Linked DNA regions of Homo sapiens: all the other regions are linked to region 1. The links come from fine-mapping of genetic effects on gene expression. A gene starts in region 1. Each other region holds a variant in brackets. All regions are shown on one strand. Distances are between the middles of the regions.

Evidence for each region. PIP is the estimated chance that this variant, and not a neighbour inherited with it, causes the effect.
Region 2: its variant is fine-mapped to the expression of SHISA4 in macrophages (Nedelec 2016, PIP 0.91).
Region 3: its variant is fine-mapped to the expression of SHISA4 in tibial nerve (GTEx, PIP 0.96).

Annotation. Positions count from the first base shown.
Region 1 is chr1:201,884,739-201,892,201 of GRCh38, reverse strand. SHISA4 (shisa family member 4) reads right to left here and starts at 3,304. Exons shown (of 5, transcript NM_198149.3): 1 at 3,135-3,304; 2 at 2,586-2,757; 3 at 1,615-1,748; 4 at 634-801; 5 at 1-402. The coding sequence starts at 3,207. The coding sequence ends at 356. RefSeq lists enhancers at 3,167-3,461, 3,302-3,811.
Region 2 is chr1:201,829,177-201,836,639 of GRCh38, reverse strand. It overlaps IPO9 (importin 9), which reads right to left. Exons shown (of 24, transcript NM_018085.5): 1 at 7,268-7,463. The coding sequence starts at 7,430. IPO9-AS1 (IPO9 antisense RNA 1) reads left to right here and starts at 7,081. Exons shown (of 3, transcript NR_046696.1): 1 at 7,081-7,463. RefSeq lists enhancers at 7,184-7,393, 7,405-7,463 and a silencer at 7,444-7,463. The variant AAT/T (reference allele first, on the strand shown) is at 3,411.
Region 3 is chr1:201,914,271-201,921,733 of GRCh38, reverse strand. The region is part of intron 1 of LMOD1 (leiomodin 1); the gene reads left to right. Among named protein-coding and RNA genes, the nearest start is that of LMOD1, 29 kb to the left of the region's middle. RefSeq lists an enhancer at 7,025-7,463. The variant TA/A (reference allele first, on the strand shown) is at 4,092.

The DNA of each region.
Region 1 (7,463 bases):
CCCACCCCAGCCCAGAGGGGACAAACAGTAGGGCCCCAGCCTTCCTGGCTGGGATCTTGGGAGCAGAGGGACTATTTGAAAACAGGCACTGTGACCCAGGCTGTCATCTCCCTCCCTTGCCCCCAGTAAAAATAGCCCATAATTCCAAGCCCTCCCCCCAACCCCTCATAGTTCTAGTTCAGCTCCTGTTCCACTTCCCTGGGGCTCTGTCCCCAGTAGGGCCCAGGGCTTGGCTTGGTCTGGGGCCTGGTGGCTGGAGGACTCCTGCCACCCCCAGGACCAGATGCAGGTACAGGATGAGGGCATCTCCCAAGGTTGGCATCACTGAAGGGGCAGCAGAGACATGGCTGGTTCCTCAGGCTCCCGGGTAAGAGGGCTGTGGTGGCATATAGGGAGGAGGAGCTGAAAGCCAAAGAGACAGGATGAGGGTGAGTGGTGGCATAGGTGGACGAAAAGTAACACCCCTGCCCCCGGGGCAGACAGGACCCATAGGGAAGAGTGGGCCTGGAGGTTTCGGGCTAGAGGTGGAGGAAGTCTGGGAGAGGGAATCTGAGAATGAGAGAGGCACAGGGGAGGTCGCAGGGCAAGGGGTGGGGGAAGGCAGCAGCAAGGGGCTCCAGATTGCTTACTTACCTGCAGGGTTGTAGACTGGGGGCCCAGCTGGGTAGAGTGGATATTGGGGAGCAGGACCACTAGGTGGGTATATGAAGCCAGGCTGTGGGGGTGCAGGGCCAGCTTTGGGGTCCTGGGGGTATGGGTATACTGGCTGCACTGGGATGCCTGTCATTGGAATCTCCTGGCCTAGATGGGGGAGAAGGATCAGCATTCAGAGACCCATCTCCTATGGGAAGCCTCCTCCTCCTGCCCAGGAAACCAAGGTAAGCACCCTGGTGCTGGCCTCTGGCAAGCTCCAGGCTGGCCATCTTTGCCTCCCACACCCTGCTTGGCAGAGTTAAGCAGGGAGCTGTGCACGTGGCCCCAGCTGGTCAATCTGTGTTGAGCAAGTTTGCTCCCCTCAGCAGGTTTCAGAGACCTCATGAACCAGGGAGCACAGCCCAGGGAATATCTCACTTGGGCAAGAAGGGGACAGCTCAGGGCTGGTATCCTGTAATCCAGCAGAGCTGCCACTAAGAGGGTCTTCTCCTAGCCCTTCCCTCCCACACTGATCTCCCGTATGGCATCACTGTCCCCATGTCCATCAGGTTGTGGCATATGTGCATCACATGCCAACACTCAGGCACATATTTTGCCATCCACTGGAGCACACTCAATTAATGTTCATCACTACAGACCTGACCCCGTGTACTTACTAAGAGTCATATGTATGCATACACCCACTGCACCCACTATTGTTGACAGACTGCACTCCTGTACACATTTGAATCTTCATGTGTATGCACAGAAATGCACACAAAGTCTGATGTTCCATATATCCCAGGCACATTCTAATATTCACGGGTTTACAAGCATTTTTCTGGGTTTTCATGCTGGCAGGTGTGTGTATACAGAAGCACATACTACTACAGAATTTACCCAATCCATGAACTCTCTGCTGCCCATTATTGGACTTAGCCCAGCCCATCTGAGGCCCTTCTTGCCCAGTACTGGGTGTACCTTCAAATGGGCTCTGGAGCTGCTGGCGCCGGCGGTACAGGTAGCAACAGGAACAGAGGAAGCAGCAGATGGTGGTGGCAACCACAGCAACAAAGAGGATCACAGCTGAGGCGATGCCTGCTATGGTCTTGGGGCTTTAGACAAAGAACAGGTCCTCTCACCTTCCAACACTCATAGGACGGAGTCCTCATTATGCTGGCTCCAACTCCTGGCCAGCAGGGGGGCCATGGCATGCTGAGATTTGGGGTTCCTTGTGGGGCTCTGCCCAGTCCCTGTGAAGGAGATCTTAGAGGACCTCCACTTCCCAGAAGGCTATGCTGCCTGGCTGGCTAGTGTGAAGCATACGGGGATTTGCAGTGCGCCCCCAACCATTGCTTTTATATCTACAACTTAAATGATTAGACATACAGCATAACACTGAAAGGAGCCTTAGAAATAATCTAGAGCCATTTTTTCCAAACCCCGCTTCAATCAGAAGTCTCTATATCTATTTTATATATGATATATTAAAAAAAAGTTTGACAACCACTAATTTGGCAAGCAATGACCCATAGAAGGCAAGTGTCTTCTCCAAGATCACACAGCTAGTAAGAAGTGGACCTGGGAATCAAACCCAAGTCTCCTGCCTTTGTGCCAGAGCTTCTTCCACAAAGCTACACTGTCGTCCGGGTGTTAACCTTGAACCCTCCCTCCCCATGACCTGGCAGGACCAAAGGGAGGGCTCCAGAAAGAACCTGGAAACCCCGGGCCCAGTCAAAGCCTATGAAGGTAACTAACATGCCTTTTCTGGAACTCCCAGGCACCAGCACCTAAGCACCTAGCTCTGCCGCCAGGCTTGAGTCCTGGTGACTCTATTCAGCTAAGAATGTGGAGGTCGACAACGGAGGAGGCAGGAGTCCGGGAGGGAGGAAGAGGAGGCCTCTGGAGAAAAGGATAGAGGAGGTGGTGAGGGTGAGGAGGCAGGAACCCACCTGAAGGCCAGGCAGTGCTTCTGCTGCCTCTCGGTGATAAGCAAGGTCAGGTCCCTGCAGCAGTACCGATGGTAGCAGGTCCCGCAGCAGAAGGTGAAGAACTCGCAGTTAAACCCCGGATGCCAGGAGCCATTCCGGTCCAGGTACCACAGGCAGTCCTCGCCGGCCAGCACTGCGGGCAGGGATTGGGGGTGCCCAGTGGCCACCAGGCCAGTTCATCCCCAGCCGCGCTCGGCCCCACTCCCCCGGCGGTCCCCAGCCTGACGGCTCCCGAACACTGAGGGTTGCCCCTTGTCTCCACCCTGAGGGTCTCAGCCCCAGAGCCCCCGAGGCCTCTGCCTGAAGCTGACCCTGCACCCCGGGATCAGCCTCCCATGGCCCAGCATCCTGGAGCTCCCTCTTCCCGCTTCTTGAGGACCCAGCAACACCCAAGGCTCCCGTGGCAGCCGGAGGGTCTCGGAGAAGCCCCGAGCCCAAGCCCCTCGGATCGGTCCCTCCCCTTCCTCCGCCCCCATCCCACTCCTGCCGCATCTCTCCCCATCCCCTTACCCAGGGGAGCCCCCAGCACCAACAGAGCGATTGCGGTGAGCGGCGCGGCCCGGCGGAGCCCCGCGGGTGGCATGGTGGGGGCTGGGCGCGGCCGGGGTCGGGCCTCCCAGAGAAGGGACCGCAGGACCAAGCCGGCCAGCTGGAGCTGCGGCGGGGCCCAGCCCGCGGCCAGGCTCGGGCTCCTCTTCCGCCTCCTCTGGGGGTGGGACTAAGCGCCCCGCCCGCGCTAACCCAGCCGGCGCGGCTCCGCGCAGCGCCCAGGAGTCCACCCACCAGCGACGCCCACCTAGCCTCTGGAGCTGGGTGCCCCTCACCCAGCAGAGCACTGCCCTGCTCCCCCTGTCCCCGGCTCCGCGGTGGTTCCTCCCATCCGAGCCACCATGGGCACTGCGGGCAGTTGGGCACTGCGGCCAGGGAAGCCTGGCTGTGTCCTGGACCCGCCCCCGGCCTGGGCCCAATCACTATGCTGGACTCCAGAAGCCCTGATCCTGGTGCCACCTCCGAATGCCCAGACACATGGGCCAACCCTGGAGGAGCAGGGCTGGACCTTCACTTGTGGGGGACCTCCTCTGCCGCGTCCAGCCTGGGACATCCTGTCGGGGGCGGAGAGGGAAAGAGGCTGGATGTCACCCCGCCCCCATTCCCAGAACACAAGCACTCATTGAGAGGCATTCAGAGTGGCTTTGTCCCCAGCGGTGCCCACAGGCCTGAACCCTGCCAGCTGCACTGGCTCCCTACGATGGACCCTTCCCCCTTCAAGTGGACAGAGCTGGCATGCACCAGCCCATGGCCTCACTAGCAGGGAAGGCAGGCTGCTGGGGCCACCTGGGGCCCATCCAGTTAAACACTCTTCACAGTGAAAGCCCTTCACAGAGCAAGCCTGTACTGCAATAGCCACCGGAGCATAGGGAGGGCAACAGTTAATTTCAGGTGGGCAACAGTTAATTCCAGGTGGAGACAGTGTTTTAGGATGGGAGAGGTCAGTCTTCACAGGTTTATACTGAGTGCCAGTGACTATGCCCCATGCTACATGAGGTACCCTCCGAGGAACTGCAAATTAAGCCAGGGAGATCATCAAAAGCCTACCTTAATCCCCTGCCATGTACACCCTTTCACACACTTCTGGGCTTCCACATCTACCTCACTGGAATCTTTCCACAACTCCATGAACTAAGCAAGGTTCATCAGTGTTATCAATCGCATTTCACAGACTGAGAAACTAGGACTCATGGAGGTTAAAGAACTTGTTCAAGGTAATACAGCCAGTAAATGGTAGAGGCATCAGGAAGACCCAAATCTAAATCAGGGTTGATCCCCAGCCGCAACAGCAGACAGTGTAGACAGTGAGTATTTCTTGTGTTCTGGGGTGAGAGAATCAGGACAGGTCCATGGAAGGCCCAGTAGAATCTTAGTAGGTTAGGGAAGGACAGCCGAAAGAGGAGCTACCCCATCCTGGGCCCCTGTGGGTGCTGGCACACCTACCCAAGAGAGCTGGAATAGGAGAGGATAGGCTCCTGCCCCAGAAAGTTGCTGGTAGCCTGATGGGCAAGAGTATGTCCTCACGCAGGACACAGTCATAAATGCAGCAGCAGGGACAAAGAGAAACGCCTCTGAATCCAGCACCACCTACTCAGTGTGCCCATTGCCATCCATCTCCTCTTTCCTACACTAAAAGCTCCATGACTGCAGGGACCACGTGGCTGTGTTCAATGTGGCCATCCAGCCCTAGCCATCAGTGTTGTCATTGTTGGTTGAATCATCTTCAGATAAGGGACTGTCTTTCCTGCCCAGAGCTGAATCTCCCATGTGTACCCTTGACCCCTGCTGATTTGTCTCTTCATTATCCCATCTCTTTAGTGTCTTTAGCTTCTCACACCTTACCAGCTTCTTTTCCCTAGGAAATCTCAAGTCTCTCCTATTTAAAGCAAAGCAAAGCAAAGCAAACCAAACCAAACCACATCCTTCCTAAAACTCATCCCTCTCTAGCTACTTTCCTGCTTTTTTCTCCAACTAGCCTTCCTCAAAGTGTATACCCCTAGTTGACACGCCCTCCTCAAAGTGTATACCCCTAGTTGACACTTCCAGCTTGCAATGACACCTAGCACGCACCAACATCATCAGTGATTTTCTAATTGCAAAATTCTAAGAATGTGTTTCAGTTCATGGGATGGGAGGTGACTAGACTAGGACAGAGAGTGAAGAGAGGGGGCTGTGGGCCAACCAGAGGGGAGAACTGGCTGCACTGGGAGAACTGGCACTTCTTACCTTGACAAGGGATGCTGGAGCTCGGAGATGGAGAGCTGGGGCTAGCTTATGTCGCCATAATGAACCTGGGTCTTGAAAGAGTCTGTAGATTGGCCAGGAGTGAGGAGGGGCTTGGGTGGGAGGACTGGGGGCCCTGGAAGAAGTTGTCTAAATCTTCAGGCCTGGAAGGGCTTCACTACACCTTCTCTAGGTAAGGGCAGGCAGGAATACCCCCCGCTCACCAAGCTGGTCTCTTAATCCCCAGCAAGGGAAAGAAACGCTTTCCTGGAAAAGAGGAGGCAGAGTAATTTGTGATCAGATGAGACAAAACATAGGCTTTGCCAGTAGGAGGTTCTCCTCAGGGTGTCTGGAATATGATGGTAATGATACCACCAGCAGCGAACATTGCTGATGAGCTCATCCCATTGTACAGATGAGGAAACTGAAGTTGGAAGAACTTCAATTCCCCCAGCTCACACTGCTGGGATTTGCAGTTGGACTTTTGTGGCTTCAAAGCCCAGGCCCTTCAGCTTCACCACCTGCTTCTCTTTAAACAAGTCTAAAGGGCCAGGCACGGTGGCTCACGCTTGTAATCCCAACACTTTGGGAGGCCAAGGCAGGCAGATCACCTGAGGTCGGGAGTTGGAGACCAGCCTGATCAACATGTAGAAACCCCGTCTCTACTAAAAATACAAAATTAGCTGGGTGTGGTGGCACATGACTGTAATCCTAGCTGCTCGGGAGGCTGAGGCAGGAGAATCACTTGAACCCGGGAGGCTTGAACCCGGGAATCGCCATTGCATTCCAGCCTGGGCAACAAGAGCGAAACTCCGTCTCAAACAAACAAAAAAACAAGTCTAAAATGTTCAGTGCTATGCCTGGCATAAAAAGCATGTATTCAGGGAAACTTTGATGCCCAGCCCTTATCTCTAGCAGGCCTCTGCATGTGGTGAGAAGGTAGCCAGGGATATCTGAAGTGGGGAAAGGCAGGAGGAGGGGAAGGGCTGGGACCCTGCCTGTGACCCAGTTTGGGCTTGGCTAGGGGCTGTGGTAGGAGTGCTCTGCTGAGTCACCTCACTCCTGGGCTGAATGACCAGCCCAGGGCTCCTCCCAACCTCTTCCATGCTCCTCTATCAGAGCAGACTAACACAGGCATTCCTGAGGCCTTCCTTACTTTCCTGGGCCATGAGCCCTGGAGGCTCCATCCCACCCTGGTCCTACCCCACCCATGCTGTTTGGCCGTGGAGGCTCCTGCCTCCACTTTTGTCTGGCCAGTGGTTTGTTGAACCATTCCAAGATAAGGGAAACTCCATTCCTTTCCTAATTCCTGCCTCTGGTCAGTCAGTGCTCTCCAGGAATGCACTCTACATTACTCTGCCCTCCTTTTTTCTATTCCTCCTTGCCCAGCCTCTGGCAACCCAACTCCTGCAGACAGGTAATTATACATTCCCCCACTCCATAGGACCCTGAGTTCTTTACTCTGATTTAATGTCAGATCCTTCCTGGAGGGTCTTGGACACATTAATTCTCCTTGCAGTCCACAGCTAGGAAGAGTAAGGCCTAGGACAGCACCAGGACTTGGCCAAGTCTCATGGCTTAGTTGGGGAACCAGGTCTTTTGGCTCTCACTGCCCCGGAATAAACAAACATCTCTCTTAAATCAGAATGCTTTTCTTGGCATCCAGCTTTAATCTTTCTTGCTGTAAATGAAAGACTGTCTCCTGTTTGTCCTCTTGGTGGGAGGGACTAGCAAGTGGAGGGTGGGTGAAGGACAGTGAGGATGAGCCTCACTGCTGCCAAGCTACTGGTAAGAAGGTGTACTCTTCCATGTAACAAAGTTGCACAAGTATCCTATACATTTATATATATATATATGGAGCACTCTTCTCCAGAAGGACTTTCTACCAATGCCTTTGTAGGATTGCCTCTCCCAGAACGCCAGGCTTCTGCTTGTTTGTAGAGAGCCCAGGACAGCCTGGGCCTCAGGAAAGAAGAGGGTGTAGCCAGGCTGGCTTGGATGGCAGCTGTGAGCAGCCCCCTACTCAGGCACACTCTGGGTGGCTGTGGGAGCAGCAGCAGTCCCAGG
Region 2 (7,463 bases), 56 kb after region 1:
TTTAGTTTACTTAAAAGCTATATAAATAATTGTTTCCAAGGAGTATGATGTTGATGGTAAACTCCGTGCTATAAAACCGATGCAAAATTAGCTGGGTGTGGTGATGCACACCTGTAGTCCCAGCTACTAAGGAGGCTAACATGGAAGGATCACTTGAGCCCAGGAGTTTGAGGCTGCAGTGAGCTATGATCACACCACTGCACTCCAGCCTGGATGACAGAGCAAGACCTTGTCTCAATTAAAAAACAAACTAAGAAACAAACTAATGCAAAGAAGGAAAAGCCAGAAAATAATTCTAAAGCTCTTGGCCTTATTTTAAATCTGATCAACACATTTGCTCCTATCCATTGGTTTCTGTTACGTAGTAAAACCCTACTTACAGATTTTTCACTTAACAGAGATACAATATTTTTTGAAATACAACTAAGTATATTTGTTAAAAAAAAAGTACGTGTGTGTGTGTTGGGGGACTTCTGGTTTTACTGATTGGTGTCTGTTTTTTTTTTTTTTTTTTTTTTTTGAGATGGAGTCTTGCTCTGTCACCCAGGCTGGAGGGCTGGAGTGCAGTGGTGTGATCTTGGCTCACTGCAAGCTCTGCCTCCCGGGTTCAGGCCATTCTCCTACCTCAGCCTCCAGAATAGCTGGGACTACAGGCGCCCGCCACCACGCCTGGCTAATTTTTTTGTATTTTTAGTAGAGATGGGGTTTCACCATGTTAGCCAGGATGGTCTTGATCTCCTGACCTTGTGATCCGCCCTCCTCGGCCTCCCAAAGTGCTGGGATTACAGGAGTGAGCCACACTGTGCCCGGCCTGGTGTCTTTAACACAATGTCTTTAAAAATATGAGAAAGAATAGCCTAATAACTTACTCTGGGATGATGAAGGCAGGGAAAATATAAGAAACACAGACATAAATATCCGCTTTATTTTGCTTTGCTTGGAAACGACTGTTTAAGATTAAACTAACATTCAATCTATGAAGTTGAGCCAAAGGGCAACACTGCCAAGAGGGCTATATGAAGTTGTTTTCTAAAGCTATTTTTGTTAGGAAATTTAATTTCTCTAGTTCCCTTTCCCATGGTGAAATAAGGACAGTTCATTCTGTTAATCTGGGTTTTCACCCTGACTCTAGATTCTCCTTAATTATACCTTTATTCCTATCCAAAATGGCATCCTTTGACTTCCTAAGAAATCCTCTGCCCTCTTTCATTCTCTAGTCTCATTCTCTTTTAGTCTTTTGCTTCCCTCTCGTTATCCTTGCTCCCCTTTCTCTCTTATCACCCCATATGGCAAAAACATTATCTATCTAAAACTTGGTTTAGAAGGGAAAACCCAAAGGAGAGCATGGAGGATAAAGGATCACTTAAGAAATACATGCTATTGGTCTGAAGGGTCTCCTAGAGAGACAAGACTTGGCAGTACTTTGACAGTCAACTAATAAGAATTGTGAACAGGGATTGTTGGAGAAGGATGCGGTTTTGAGTAGACCCCCTGGACAAGCCCCCTATTTCTCATGGGAGTTGGTAAGCACCACAAAACCACAGCTGAAAGGAAAAAGAAAACTCCACCACTGGCCTTTTTCCGAGCGTGGCCGCCTTCCGCTCGGCTCAGTGCCCGCCACATGCCCAGGAGTGCGTCTGGATCCTTGAGGGGCGCCCTTCGCAGGTGGACAGTGCTTACGCTATACTGCAAAAGAGCCAGAAAAGTGCCCATGAGAACCAGAAAGCAAACTTCCAGCCAGCAGGATCATCTCTCTAGGCATCTAAGATGGGGAAATCAATACAGGTATCTCGGCAGCATCTGAATGCCAGGAAAGGTGAGGGAGAGATAATTTCCCCCCTCCCCTGTTCAACATAATGGTGGTAGAAGGGAAGAAAAATGTATTCTCTGTGACTTATCTACTGGGAACTAGACAAGGCCAAATGATAGGGGAAATGTCATCATTTGTAATAGGCAAAAAAGAAATAAGCAAAGAAGAAAATGTCCTAGGGTCTAAATCTAGTTATGTAAGAAAGTCTGTGCATGCTGGCACGAAGAATTAAAGCTTCTGAATGAAAGCAACCCATTCCACCACTTGGATAATGCCATTCTTAGAGGAAAAGTAGAGAAAGAAGTAGAAAAAGAGGGAAAGAACTTCATTTTAAGATATAAAAAAATAAAGCACGAATACACCAAAAATAAAAGGCTGACATTCTCAAAAGATGGTAATTCTCATGATCTCACCGTAAGTCAGACAAAAACAAAAGAAAAAGAGTTGATGAAGCTGAGTACAGAATATGAGACTTTGACGTAAGAGATCTTCGGTGGTTCATAACCTCTCCAGTCTTTTTAACTACTATGTTTGTAAAGTGCTTAATATGAACCTGCCTATTAAACAAAACAGAATTAGAAAGCATGCTTTAGACTCTTAGCAGTGCAACAAAAAAAAAAAAGAAAAGAAAAGTTTTTTTACTCTAACGAATAAAAAAACTTAAAAAAAATTTTTTTTACCCTATTTAGGTAGAAGTAAATTTCCTACAAACCTGATCAAACTCAAAATCTCAATCCTCCTAAGAAAAATGAAAGGGGCCAGGTGTGGTTGCTCATGCCTATAATCTCAGCACTTTAGGAGGATCACTTGAGGGCAGGAGTTCAAGGCCAGCCTGGTCAACACAGCAAGACCCCATCTCCAGAAAAAAACTAAAAAAATCAGCCAAGTATGGGCATGTGCTTGTAGTCACAGCCACTTGGGAGGCTGAGGTTGGGAGGACTGCGTAAGCCCAGGAGTTAGAAGCTGCAGTAAGCTATGATCACACCACTGCACTCTAGCCTGGGTGACAGAGCAAAACTCTGTATCTTAAAAAAAAGAAAGAAAGAAAAATGAAAGGTTAACAATTATCTGCAGAATACTGTACACCATAATAACTTCCAAACTTTCAAGCAATGTTCTTCTCAATTCAGGATGGGAGTGCTATCTGATGAAGGTGGTTACTGGCATCATCTCCTTATCTAATTAGCCCTGTTAAATAGACTTTAAATATTCAGAGAGGTTTGCTGGGTTTCTTCCAGATTCCAAGTGACTAGCAAAAATAGCAAGCACAGGGGCTCAAGAAAATCATTCCAGCCAGGCGCAGTGGCTCACGCCTGTAATCCTAGCACTTTGGGAGGGCAAGGTGGGTGGATCACCTGAGGTCAGGAGTTCGAGACCAGCCTGGCTAACATGGTGAAACTCCATCTCTACTAAAAATACAAAAATTAGCCTGGCGTGTTGGTACGCGCCTGTAATCCCAGCTACTTGGGAGGCCTAGGCATGAGAATCACTTGAATCTAGGAGGCGGATGTTGCAGTGAGCCGAGATCATGCCAATGCACTCCAGCCTGGGTGACAGAGCGAGACTCTGTCTCAAAAAATAAAATTAAAAAAAAAAAAAA[AAT/T]CATTCCAGGACACCAGGCTGATGAAGTAACCTATCTTATCCTTTTCAGATTGACACGCTACATGAATCAAATGGATCTCTCACATACACACACTTCCTTGGCTTAAGAGAACAGGTGCCCATTCTGGAAAATGTGATAATTAATTATAGGCAATTTATTTATTTATCAGAAAATATCAGCTGGTACACTAAATGATCAGGACTACTCTAGGCTCCAGCAATCTTTATTTTCTAAGATAACTGCTTCTTAAAATCTCATCTATAGTACAATTTGGTCACAGCATGTCAACTTCTCTTGCCTGTCCTTTTAACAGGGAGTTGACAATTGACCTGTGTCCTTTCCCCATAAATTAGATATTCTTCCATTTAATCTTCAAGACAAGGGATCATCACCTGGTAGCCAAGGAAGGTAACAAATGTTTTTGGCAAAGGGAACGGACCAGTTAATCTTAAAGACCATGTGGGATCAGTCTCCTATGTGATGGACTAATAAACAGCTCACAAAGACAGTGTGGTTATTTGAGAGGACAGAGGGAGGACTAGATCTGGTTGTCACCTGATCCTGGGCCCCATGGAACCAAAAAATGATCAAAAGATTACCAGAACACAAATAATAATAGACACCAAATCCCAGATTTCTCATTAACTTCAAGTTTTAAGAGTGTTTCCGGCCTGGCCGGTTGGCTCATGCCTGTAATCTCAGCATTTTGGGAGGCTGAGGTGGGCAGACTGCTTGAGCTCAGGAGTTCAAGATCAGCCTGGGCAACATGGCTAAACTCCGCCTCTGCTAAAAATACAAAAATTAGCCAGGCATGGTGGTGCATGCCTGTAATCCCAACTACTTGGGAGGCTGAGGCACGAGAATTGCTTGAACCTGGGAGGTGGAGGTTGCAGTGAGCTGAGATCATGCCACTGCACTCCAGCCTGGGCCCTGGACCACAGAGTGAGACTCGGTCTCAAAAAAAAAAAAAGTGTTTCCTAGAATCAGAAAACAAGGTTCCTTCTACCAGGGTAAAACTAAAATGTGGGCTGGGTGCAGTGGCTCACGGCTGTAATCCCAGCACTTTGGGAGGCCGAGGCGGGTGGATCACCTGAGGTCAGGAGTTCGAGACAACCTGGCCAACATGGTGAAACCTCGTCTCTACTAAAAATACAAAAATTAGCCAGGCATGGTGGCAGGTGCCTGTAATCCCAGCTACTCGGGAGGCTGAGGCAGGAGAATTGCTTGAACCCAGGAGGCGGAGGTTGCAGTGAGCCGAGATCGCACCACTGCACTCCAGCCTGGGCGACAGACTGAGACTCTGTCTCAAAACAACAACAACAACAACAACAACAACAACAAAAGCAAAAAACACTAAAATGTGAAGCAACACCAAAGAAGTGGAAAGTAGTTTGCAAGAATGGCTCATCTTGCTCTGTAGGGCATTCTAATAGGAGGAACCATGTCCTGCCAGTTTCATCAGGCCAGATAGTTGGCTAAATCCCGGCTGGAAAGCTGGGTTCTATGTTTTCATGTAAAGAAGGGTTGAGGCTGGTAAAGAAGCAGCTACTATATTGCACCATGTTCAGAAAACATCTGAGAGATTCAGACAGAGTTTAAGGTGGGAGGTACTCTGAACCCAATGTCAAAGATAACTTGTTAAAGGCCACAAGAGGAAGAAAGCAGACCGCATCTGAGGGAATGGACCGCCATTCTCCACCTTAAAACAGGTACAGAAGGGGGTAAATCTCTATAGTTTTTTTGATAGACATTAAGGAGCCAGACTACTTAAAAGACACAAGCAGCCTCCAAAGGGTCCGAAGCATTGCACTAAACTCCAGAGACTGATCCAACCCTCTAACCAAATCCAAAACCTGAGTCATATGCTCTATTACTAGATCACCAATATCAGGTCACTGCATCGATGCCTTTCCATACTTTTCATTCTCATAGTCTGCCCAACAGCACATTACCAGTAAGTTATGGGGGTCGGGGGGCAGTCGATCTATTTCTCATCAGTGACTTAGATCAAAATTCTGTACTTCTGAAATTTAATTTTTCACTTAAAGGCTCAAAAAGATGCCAGGTGTGGTGGCTGAGGCCTGTAATCCCAGCACTTTGGGAGGCCTAGGTGGGAGGATCGCTTGAGTCCAAAAGTTTGAGGCTGCAGTGAGCCATGATGGCATCACTGCTCCAAAGTCTACACGATAGAGCGAGACCCAGTCTCAAGAAAAAAAAGATGAATAAAGTGAGGAATCAGAGTTTCAAAAAAGACCTCGAGAACTTTATAATTGACTTTGCCCAGATGAGACCATGGCATTTGGCTAAAGTTGAAAAGATCAGAGCAAAAGTGGAGTTGTTGTAAGACAGTTTAAATACAAGTCAAGGTCCACCTTTCATACAAAGGTGCCAGACATGCATTTGGAGCACCAGGAGCACTGGGTACCACTCAGGGAAGGTTTAGTTAAGATGAATTTGCACCAGACTCTCAAGTTTTATTCAGGTGACAACTTGAATGTGATGAGGTTCCTTTGCTTTGTCACTCTTCCTTCCTCATACTCAAGGGGGACAGACATTAATGTGCATAAACGAATTTTATTTAGAAGCCGCTAAAAATTCCTTTAGATTAGTTTATACATGGTTCTCAAACAGCTTTCTCCTAACCAGTGGTTTCTCCTGTATAGATCTGATATTTTATAAAACAATGACAATTACAAGTGGGCCTTCAAAATGGTCCTTAGCCTGTTAGATCCCAAATCTTAACATATTTCCAACAGAAGAAAATTTGTTTTCAACAGCTCTTTCATACTGTGAAAGAATGTAAACTAAATTTAAGAGAGATTTGTTCTAAATTCTTTTCAATAGAAATACGTCCAGTAGGAGAGCTAACTGAAGGTTTTGAATATGATGGGTGTGTGATGGGACAATTTCCCATATCTCTGATGAAGTATTTAAGTGGTGGTGGAAATATTCCTGAGTTGGGAGATTCTGAGGATTTGGAGTTCCAGTGAAGCTCTGACCAGATATATTTCTTACACAAAGACCAAGAAGATTTCTCCTCCTGTTTCTGGATTAAATTGTTCTTTGTGGTAGCTACACTGGACCCGGTGAAAGGCTCACGCGGCAGGAAATTGATAGAAAATCTCGAACCAATGGTTTATTTTCTTCTCCATCACTTTAAAGCACACAATAGAGGACGGAGACAAAGAATCAAAAACAAAGGATGATCAGTTCCTCCAAACAGAAATGCACAAAGGTATTTAATAAGGGCAAATTATTTTTAAAATAAACGTTAAGTATGGTCAGGACAGTGAAGCAATCGCATATGCATTTAATTTCTGGGAAAACACGAAGAGTACAAACAACTAGCTAGGTTTATAACTCAGAGGCAGAAACTTGTTTGATGACATCTATTAAGCTTTGATAGCCGCCTTTTCGAGGCCCTACCCTTCACCACTCCTACTAATAGCTCCCCCTACTCTTATCCCAGTACAATCCAGCTGGTGAAGAGAACAGCGAAAGACTTTGGTCCTGGACTCAAAAAATATTTCCCCGACCGCGCTACTTCCTCCAACAGCACCAAGTCTAGCTCCATCTCCGTCCCCTGCAGATTCTAGGCTCCATCTATCTTTTCAAGTCTCCACCCTCCCTCCCCCACTCCCAGGCTCCACCTCCCCCGACCCTATCCTTCAGGCGCGCCTCTCCTCTCTCGGACTTTCACAACCACCAGCGACATCAATCTCTCGCTTCCTGCTCCACTTCTCGGCGCCCACATCTCCAACTGGCTCAGGCTCCCCATGTCCCCAGCCGGTACGGAGCTGCGGTCAGCGGATTGTGCGGCTGAGCCATCCTCGTGACGGTCCCGCCTCACTCACCCTCCGTCACCTCCAGCACCTTAATCTGTTCTTCAGCAGCCGCCCGCACCTCCTGTACTGGGGATAGGATCCCGGTGAGCGTATCCACTAACGCTTCCTTTAATCCTTGTGCCACTGGACCCGGCAGCCCGGAGGCCGCACCAGCTGCCGCCGCCGCCGCCATCTTTTCTCCCCTCAGCCCGCCAGCCCCGCGGCC
Region 3 (7,463 bases), 30 kb before region 1:
CCGCCTCAGCCTCCCAAAGTGCTGGGATTATAGGCATGAGCCACTGCATCCGGCCATAATGCGGTGATTTTCTTGACCTATTCTGTAAGTCCCTTTCCTCTTCCTGATAACTCACTTTTCAGAGTCACCATATTTACTCCCGTGGTTTTCATTGCTACGTATACACCAATGACTCCCAAACCTACCTGTCAAGCCTAGATCTCCTTTCTGAGCCCCAGATCTTTTTTTTTTTTTTTTTTTTTTTTTGAGATGGAGTCTCACTCTGTCGCCCAGGCTGGAGGGCAGTGGTGCAATCTCAGCTCACTGCAACCTCCACCTCCTGGGGTCAAGCAGTTCTCCAACCTCAGCCTCACGAGTAGCTGGGACTGCAGGCTCGCACCACCATGCCCAGCTAATTTTTGTATTTTTAGTAGAGATGGGGTTTCACTATGCTGGCCAGGCTAGCCTCGAACTCCTGACCTCGTGATCTGCCCGCCTCAGCCTCCCAAAGTGCTGGGATTACAGGTGTGAGCCACTGCGCCCAGCCCAGATCTTTATTAATGCCAACCTGTTAGGCATTTAAATTTTGTCATGGCCAAAACAGTTGATCATCTCAAGTGCCACCCTCATCTCCCCGCTCCATATTCCCCGCCATGGTTATAAGCATCACTCTCTAACCAGGCAACCAAACTGGAAATCAGGGAGTCATCCTCCACTTCTCCTCGGCATTGTCCACTTCACTGAATCTTATTAACTGTACCCTAGAAATGTCCATGGAATGCATCTCCACTCCTCTGTGTTCACTGCTCAGCCTGGTCCAAGATCTCATCATTTCCTTTCTTTTTTTCTCTTCTTTCTTACTTTTTTATTTATTTATTTATTTTTATTTTTAGAAACAGGGTCACACTATGTTGCCCAGGCTGGTCTCAAACTCCTGGGCTCAAGCAAGCCTCCTGCCTTGGCTTCCCAAAGTGCTGAGATTACAGGCGTGAGCCACCGCGCCCAGCCTCCCACCCCCTATTCTATATTCGCTGGGTCCTGCACTGTGTAGAGGCCACTTGGCCTCCTTGATTTAATGGCTTGACATCCTTGTTTGCTCCCTGTCTTCCCAGTAGGTCTTGGCTTTTCTTTCTCCCTTCCAGTAGAATATCCAGACCCACCTCCTAATTGTCCTTGAGCTTAAAGACTCAGCTTACTCCTCAGCTATTTCTCAACTATGATTGACTTCCTCAGCAAGCAAGTGGAATTCTGGTCTCTGTGGCCTTGGCATAGGAAAAACCGGTGTCTCCAAGGGCCTCAGCTGCTAAAAGGGAGCTGCATTTAGGAGTTGTATTGACCCTGTAGCATGATGTCTTTCCAGAACAATTCACAAGGCCTGGGAAAGTATGTCATTTTACTGGGGTAGTAATCCCCAGTCAGAGAGTCAATGGTGGGTGGGAGGCTGAGGCGGGCGGATCGTCTGAGGTCAGGAGTTCAAGACCAGCCTGGCCAACATGGAGAAACCCTGTCTCTGCTAAAAATACAAAAATTAACCAGGCGTGGTGGTGGGTGCCTGTAATCCCAGCTACTTGGGAGGCTGAGGCAGGAGAATCACTTGAACCCCGGAGGTTGAGGTTGCAGTGAGCCAAGATCATGCCATTGCACCCCAGCTGCCTGGGTGACAAGAACAAAACTTGGTCTCAAAAAAAAAAAAAAAAAAAAAAAAAAAAGAGAGAGAGCCAGTGGCGGGTGGAGATGGCATTGAAGCCAATATATTCCTTCTACTCTTTGAAGTCCTGGGCTCTTCTGGAGACTTTAGGAAGACACTGAAAAAGGCTGCTTACAATAGTTTAGTGGCCAGGATGGAGAGATGTGGACTGGAAGGTGATGCAGGTGGATGCTGATTGGTGGCTCCCTGGAGGCCTGTAGTAGGATACCAGAGAGTTCTGCCCTGGAGTCTGCCCTGGTTAGTGGACAAAAAGATCCAGAAGGCACATGTACCACACTGGCAGATTATCTGAAGCTGAGAGTCACAGTGAGCTTTTAAACAGCAGAACCAGGATTTAGAAAATTCTAGTCAGGCTGGAATGGCAGGCTTAGTCTAACAGATGAACTTTTCTAGCCCACAGAAAAGCAGCCTCAGGGAGAGGACCCAATACCTACAGAGCACTCACATAGAAGAGAAGGGGTCACCTTGCTTTATACAGTCCCTGGGAATAACAGGACCAAATGGGCTTTCTGACACAGAGTCAGGTTAAAAAAGAAGAAAAGGGGCCAGGCGTGGTGGCTCATGCCTGTAATCCCAGCACTTTGGGAGGCCAAGGCAGGCAGATCACCTGAGGTCAGGAGTTTGAGACCAGCCTGGCCAACATGGTGAAACCCCGTCTCTACTAAAAATACAAAATCAGCCGGGCATGGTGGTGGGCACCTGTAATCCCAGCTACTTGGGAGGCTGAGGCAGGAAAATTGCTTGAACCCAGGAGGCGGAGGTTGCAGTGAGTACCACTGCACTCCAGCCTGGGTGAAGGACTGAGGCTCTGACCCCCCAAAAAAAAAAAAGTTTCTGTCTTTTAGAGATACACACTGAGGCCAGGCATGGTGGCTCACACCTGTAATCCCAGCAAAAGTGAGGCCAAGGCGGGAGGATTGCTTGAGGCCAGGAGTTTGAGACCAGCCTGAGCAACATAGCAAGACCCCAGATCTACAAAAATAAAAGTTAGCCAGGCATGGTGGCACATGCCTGTAGTCCTAGATACTCGGAAAGCTGAGGCAGGAGGATCACTTGAGCCCAGGAGTTTGAGGTTATAGTGAGCTATGATCATACCACTACACTCCAGCCTGGGTGACAGAGTGAGACCCTGTCCCTAAAAAAGAAATAGAGTACACACTGAAATATGTATGCATGAAATGATACACCTGGAATTTGCTTTCAAATAATGTGAGATTGTGACAAAAATGGGTGGGCATCAGATGAAACAAGATTGGCCATATGTAGAGAATCGCTGAAGCTGGGCAATGGGTACCTTGAGGTTCATTGTGCTGTTCTCTCTAGTTTGTTGTACAGTCGAACTTTTCCACATATAAAGTTAAAAAGAAGGAGGAGGAACAAAAGAAGAAGTGTTAGCCAGGCAGAGAAGAAAGCGAGAGGACATCCTGTGTGGCAGGAGCAGCATGCATAGGCAACAAGACCCAAGAGAGCCCAGCATGGGGTAGGGCAGCAAGACCCAAGAGAGCCCAGCGTGGCTGTTCCTCACTGTAACCAGAGTGCAGGCAGGAAGGGGAGGGCGCACAGAGGCAGGCACAGGCCAGGTCACGGAGGGCTTTGTTGCCATGCTACAAAGTCTGCACTTCATCCTGAAAGCATGGGAGCCATGGATCAGAATCACATTTTGAAAGGTCTTTCTGGAGACAGAGTGCACTCAAAGAGAAGGAAGACAGGAGGCAGGGGGTTCAGTGGGGAGGCAAGAGATGATGGAGGCCGCAAACACAGCAATGGTGAGGGGATGTGAGGAAGCTAATCTCAGCTATGTTAGGAAGGTGGGATGAAGGGAACGTGGTGAGGGAAAAAGGAAGCGTCAAGGCTGATGTCCCAGTGTCTGTGGGGTGGGAGAGCCATTCCTGAAGAGGGAGAAGGCGGGAAGACAGAGAGCTGCACCATCCCTGATCCCTGGCCTCTTAGGCCTAGGACTGGCTACAGAATTTGCAGGGCTTAGCGCAAAATGAAAATGTGCTCAAGAATTACTAAAACTTTCAAGACGATGACAGCAGAGAATTAAACCAAGCGTAGGGCCCTCTGAGCATGGGGCCCTGGAGCACTGCAGAGGTCAGACACCATAAAGCTGCTCCTGCTTTAGCCAATGTACCCTTTTCTGTTTAGAAGGAACAGGAGAGGGGCTGTATGAAAGCCAGGCCTCCTGCTCACAGCCCCAGGCAGTAAAAGAACAGTATGTTCCTTCTGCCACCCTCCGGGACCTAAGTGGGACCCAGAAGCCTGGGACAAATAGCTTGCATTTGTGTAGATCTTTACAACATTTCCCAGACTTGCTTGGGTTTTCCTTGGTGCTGGGATAAAATGAAGAAGCAGAAAGTACTAGCCAGGCACTTCAGAGAGCAGAGTGCTACAGTGACTTGTT[TA/A]TCTCCCCAAAGAGATTTCCCGGTTTCTCCAAAAATGGGGTTTGCTACAAGCTTCCCAGTATGAGTCACCAGACCAGTTGGCAAAGCATTTAGTTCTGCTGAGAGCAATGGAGTTGACCCTTCATTGGCCGAGAAGATCTGCCACAAGAACCTTCATCCCCCTAGTGATGGGTTCTGCATAACCCCCAGGCAGAAGCCAGAATGGCGCTGACTGTGAAGTCTTAGCTATTGCAGGCTGTGTTGCATGCCCTCACCTCAAAACGCCTCTGTCTTTCTCTACTTGCAGTGAATGCAGAAGCCTTGGTGGTAGGGGTAAGGGCCTAGGTGAAACACAGACACCGCTCACCGTGCCTTCCTTTCTGGTGCCTCTTGATGGCTCTTGGCAGGCTTTTGAGGTCAGGCCACCTTCCCCCATTTACCATCCCTTTCACTAGAAACCCTGGTCCTTAAAGACTCAAGGCAGGCAAGAACCCTCCCAGCCTTGGCAGAGTTTGGTGACACATGCAGTGTAAGTGCCCAGCCACCCACATCTGCACATTATCCTTGTCTTTTCCAGAAGGTTTCTTTGCTCCCCTTCCCTACAAAGACAGAGCAGGCCCTGAGATGGTGGCGTTCACTCCTCTTGTAAAGCCTGGTCTCCCGCAGGACTGCATCAGAAAATGCCCTTTTTTTCCCAGGTTCACAAACCGCTGCCCTTTTCTTGGCTGCCATTGCGCCACTCCGACCCCTGGAGATCATCTTGGGAGGTAAAAATGAATCATGGCGTTTCTGTTTATGCTGGAGCTGGAGGCAGTGCCTGAGACCCTTTGGCCCTCTGCTCAGCACTGATGTTTATCACCGGGGCTGATGTGTAATTGCTGGAACAGAGCCAGGCGAAGGTCAGGCTGCGAGGCAGGTCCTGGGCACAGCACAGCCGGGCTGAAGACTGAGCACAGTGACGGGGAATCCCCTCCCTCCCACCTCTGGCCCCATCCATCCCTCCTCCCCACACCACGGCCTGATGCCTCTTGGTTTTTAATTTTGTTTTGTTTTTGCTGTGAAACTCAGTTATTTAAAGACAATTTTGTTTCTTTTTCATAAAACAGCTTTTGTTGGTTTTTGTTTTGTTTTGTTTTGTTTTGTTTTTTGAGACAGGGTCTCTCTCTGTTGCTCAGGCTGGAGTGCAGTGGCATGATCACGGCTCACTGCAACCTCGACCTCCCTTGGCTCAGGTGATCCTCTCACCTCAGCCTCCCAGGTAGCTAGGGCTACAAGCACATGCCACCACGCCTGGCTAATGTTTGTATTTTTTGTAGAGATGGAGTTTCACCATGTTGCCCAGGACGGTCTTGAACTCCTGGGCTCCAGCTTCCCCTCACCCTGACCTTCCAAAGTCCTGGAATAGATGTGCCTTTGTTGTATTTTTCTGATCATAAAAGTAGTTCAAGCCAGGTGTGGTGGCTCACACCGTAATCTCAGCACTCCGAGAGGCCAAGGTGTGTGGATCGCTTGAGCCCAGAAGTTTAAGACCAGCCTGGGCAACATGGCGAAACCCCGTCTCTACAAAAAATACAAAAATCCGCTGGGTGTGGTGGTGCATGCCTGTAGTAGCAGCTACCTAGGAGGCTGAGGTGGGAGGATCACAAGCTGGAGGAAGTCAAGGCTGCAGTGAGCCGTGTCACACCACTGCACTGCAGCCCAGAGGAGAGAATGAGACCTTGTATCAAAAAAAAAAAGTTCAGACATTAGACACTGAAAGGCTTCGGATGGGTCTGGCCTTCAGCAAGGTCCCTGGGGCTGCCGTGCAAGGATCGCCCTGGAGGAGGTCAGCGAAACCGAGAGGAGGTTGTTGCTATAACCCCATGAGAGGTGATAGTGGCCTGGACCAAGGGAACATCTGTGAGGATGGAGGAGAGGGATTGATCTGAGTGGGGTTCAGGCTGTAGTATCTGTGTGCAGGTAACGAGGGAGTATATAATAGGTCGATTTCCCAGCCTTCCCCCAAAATCACTTGGGCTACTGGTAGGGAAGGGTGAGTGAGTGCAGAGCGGGGTGCAGAGGGGTCCACGTTGCCTCCCCACAGATCCCTCCTTTCCTCTTCCCAGCCGGGTTCTGATTGGAGTCACTGGGTGTTTAGAGGAGCCACTTGCCCAGATAGGGAATAGTGCAGGGGTCGGCAAGGCAGTGGGGGAAGATAAGGAGTCCAGTTTTTGAGGTACTTTGGGGCACACAAACCAAGATATTCATTAGACGGTACTACCTTCCTAGTAGTGTCTGGCCCAGAGATCCAGCTTTGAGAGACATCAGTACGTAGAATGCAGCTGATGCCATCAGAATGGATGAGATAATCCGGTGAGAGGCTCTAAAGGTGAAAACAAAGGAGGCCTAAAATAAGACCTTGCCAACACCCACATGTCTCAAGGAAGAGGGTCCTTGAAGGAGGCCTAAAGGAGCTATCAGAGAGCTAGGAGGAAAGCCATGAAGGCTGCGGTGGAAACCGATGGGGAAGCGTTTTGAAGGAAGGACCTGGCCAATAGCGCCAGATGCTTCCCACGCAGTTTGAGCAATATATGAAATAAAAGATAAATCCGACTTAGTGACAGGAGGGTCAGAAGTGATCTGGATGAAACTAATTTCCATGGAATGTTGGGGGTGAGGCAAGAGTGTGTTGGATTGAGGAATGAATACGGATCAAAAAGTAGAGCTCTTTGAGGAAGTTTGGGTATACGGGAAGGCTGGCGCTACAGCTGGAAGGGACTGTGGACAGAAGGAGGATCTGATTAACCGGGAGAGATGGGCAGGTTTAAAGGGTGGTGGGAAGGGGCCAGGAAAGAGGGAGAGGCTAAGGCTGTGGAAGAGGGTGCGGGAGTGCAATGTGGGGAGGAGGGGTGGGCACCAGAGTGCGTGGGGAGGGGTGAGCCTGGGCAGGAGGAGAGGGAAGGTGAAAGATGAGCCTGGAGGTGAGTTTGTAGAAGAGGTGGCAGGAAGTTGGAGAATTGCCATGGGTTGTTTCCTCTGTCTGCCTGGGAAGAAATTAGAGGAGATTGTCTGCCAAGAATAGGGGTGGAGTGGGACGAGAGATACTAAGAGAAGGGAGAAGAATTCGGATAGATGCTATGAAGAACCAGGAGAGAGCTAGACCCATAATGACAGTTACCTTTTATTGAAAGCTTCCTGTGCAGCCACAGGAAGTGGATGTGTTATCCACTCACCTCAATGAAGCCTTAATACCGCCCCGTACCAGATGTGATCCCCGTTTTACAGATGAGGAAGGCAAATTAACCTGTCCATGTTGACATAAGAGCAAAGTGTGGAACCCTGGCCTTCTGACTCTCAAGCTGGTCCTCAGCATTGGCGCCACTTGTGAGTGTTAGGGTTCACAGGGGCTGCAG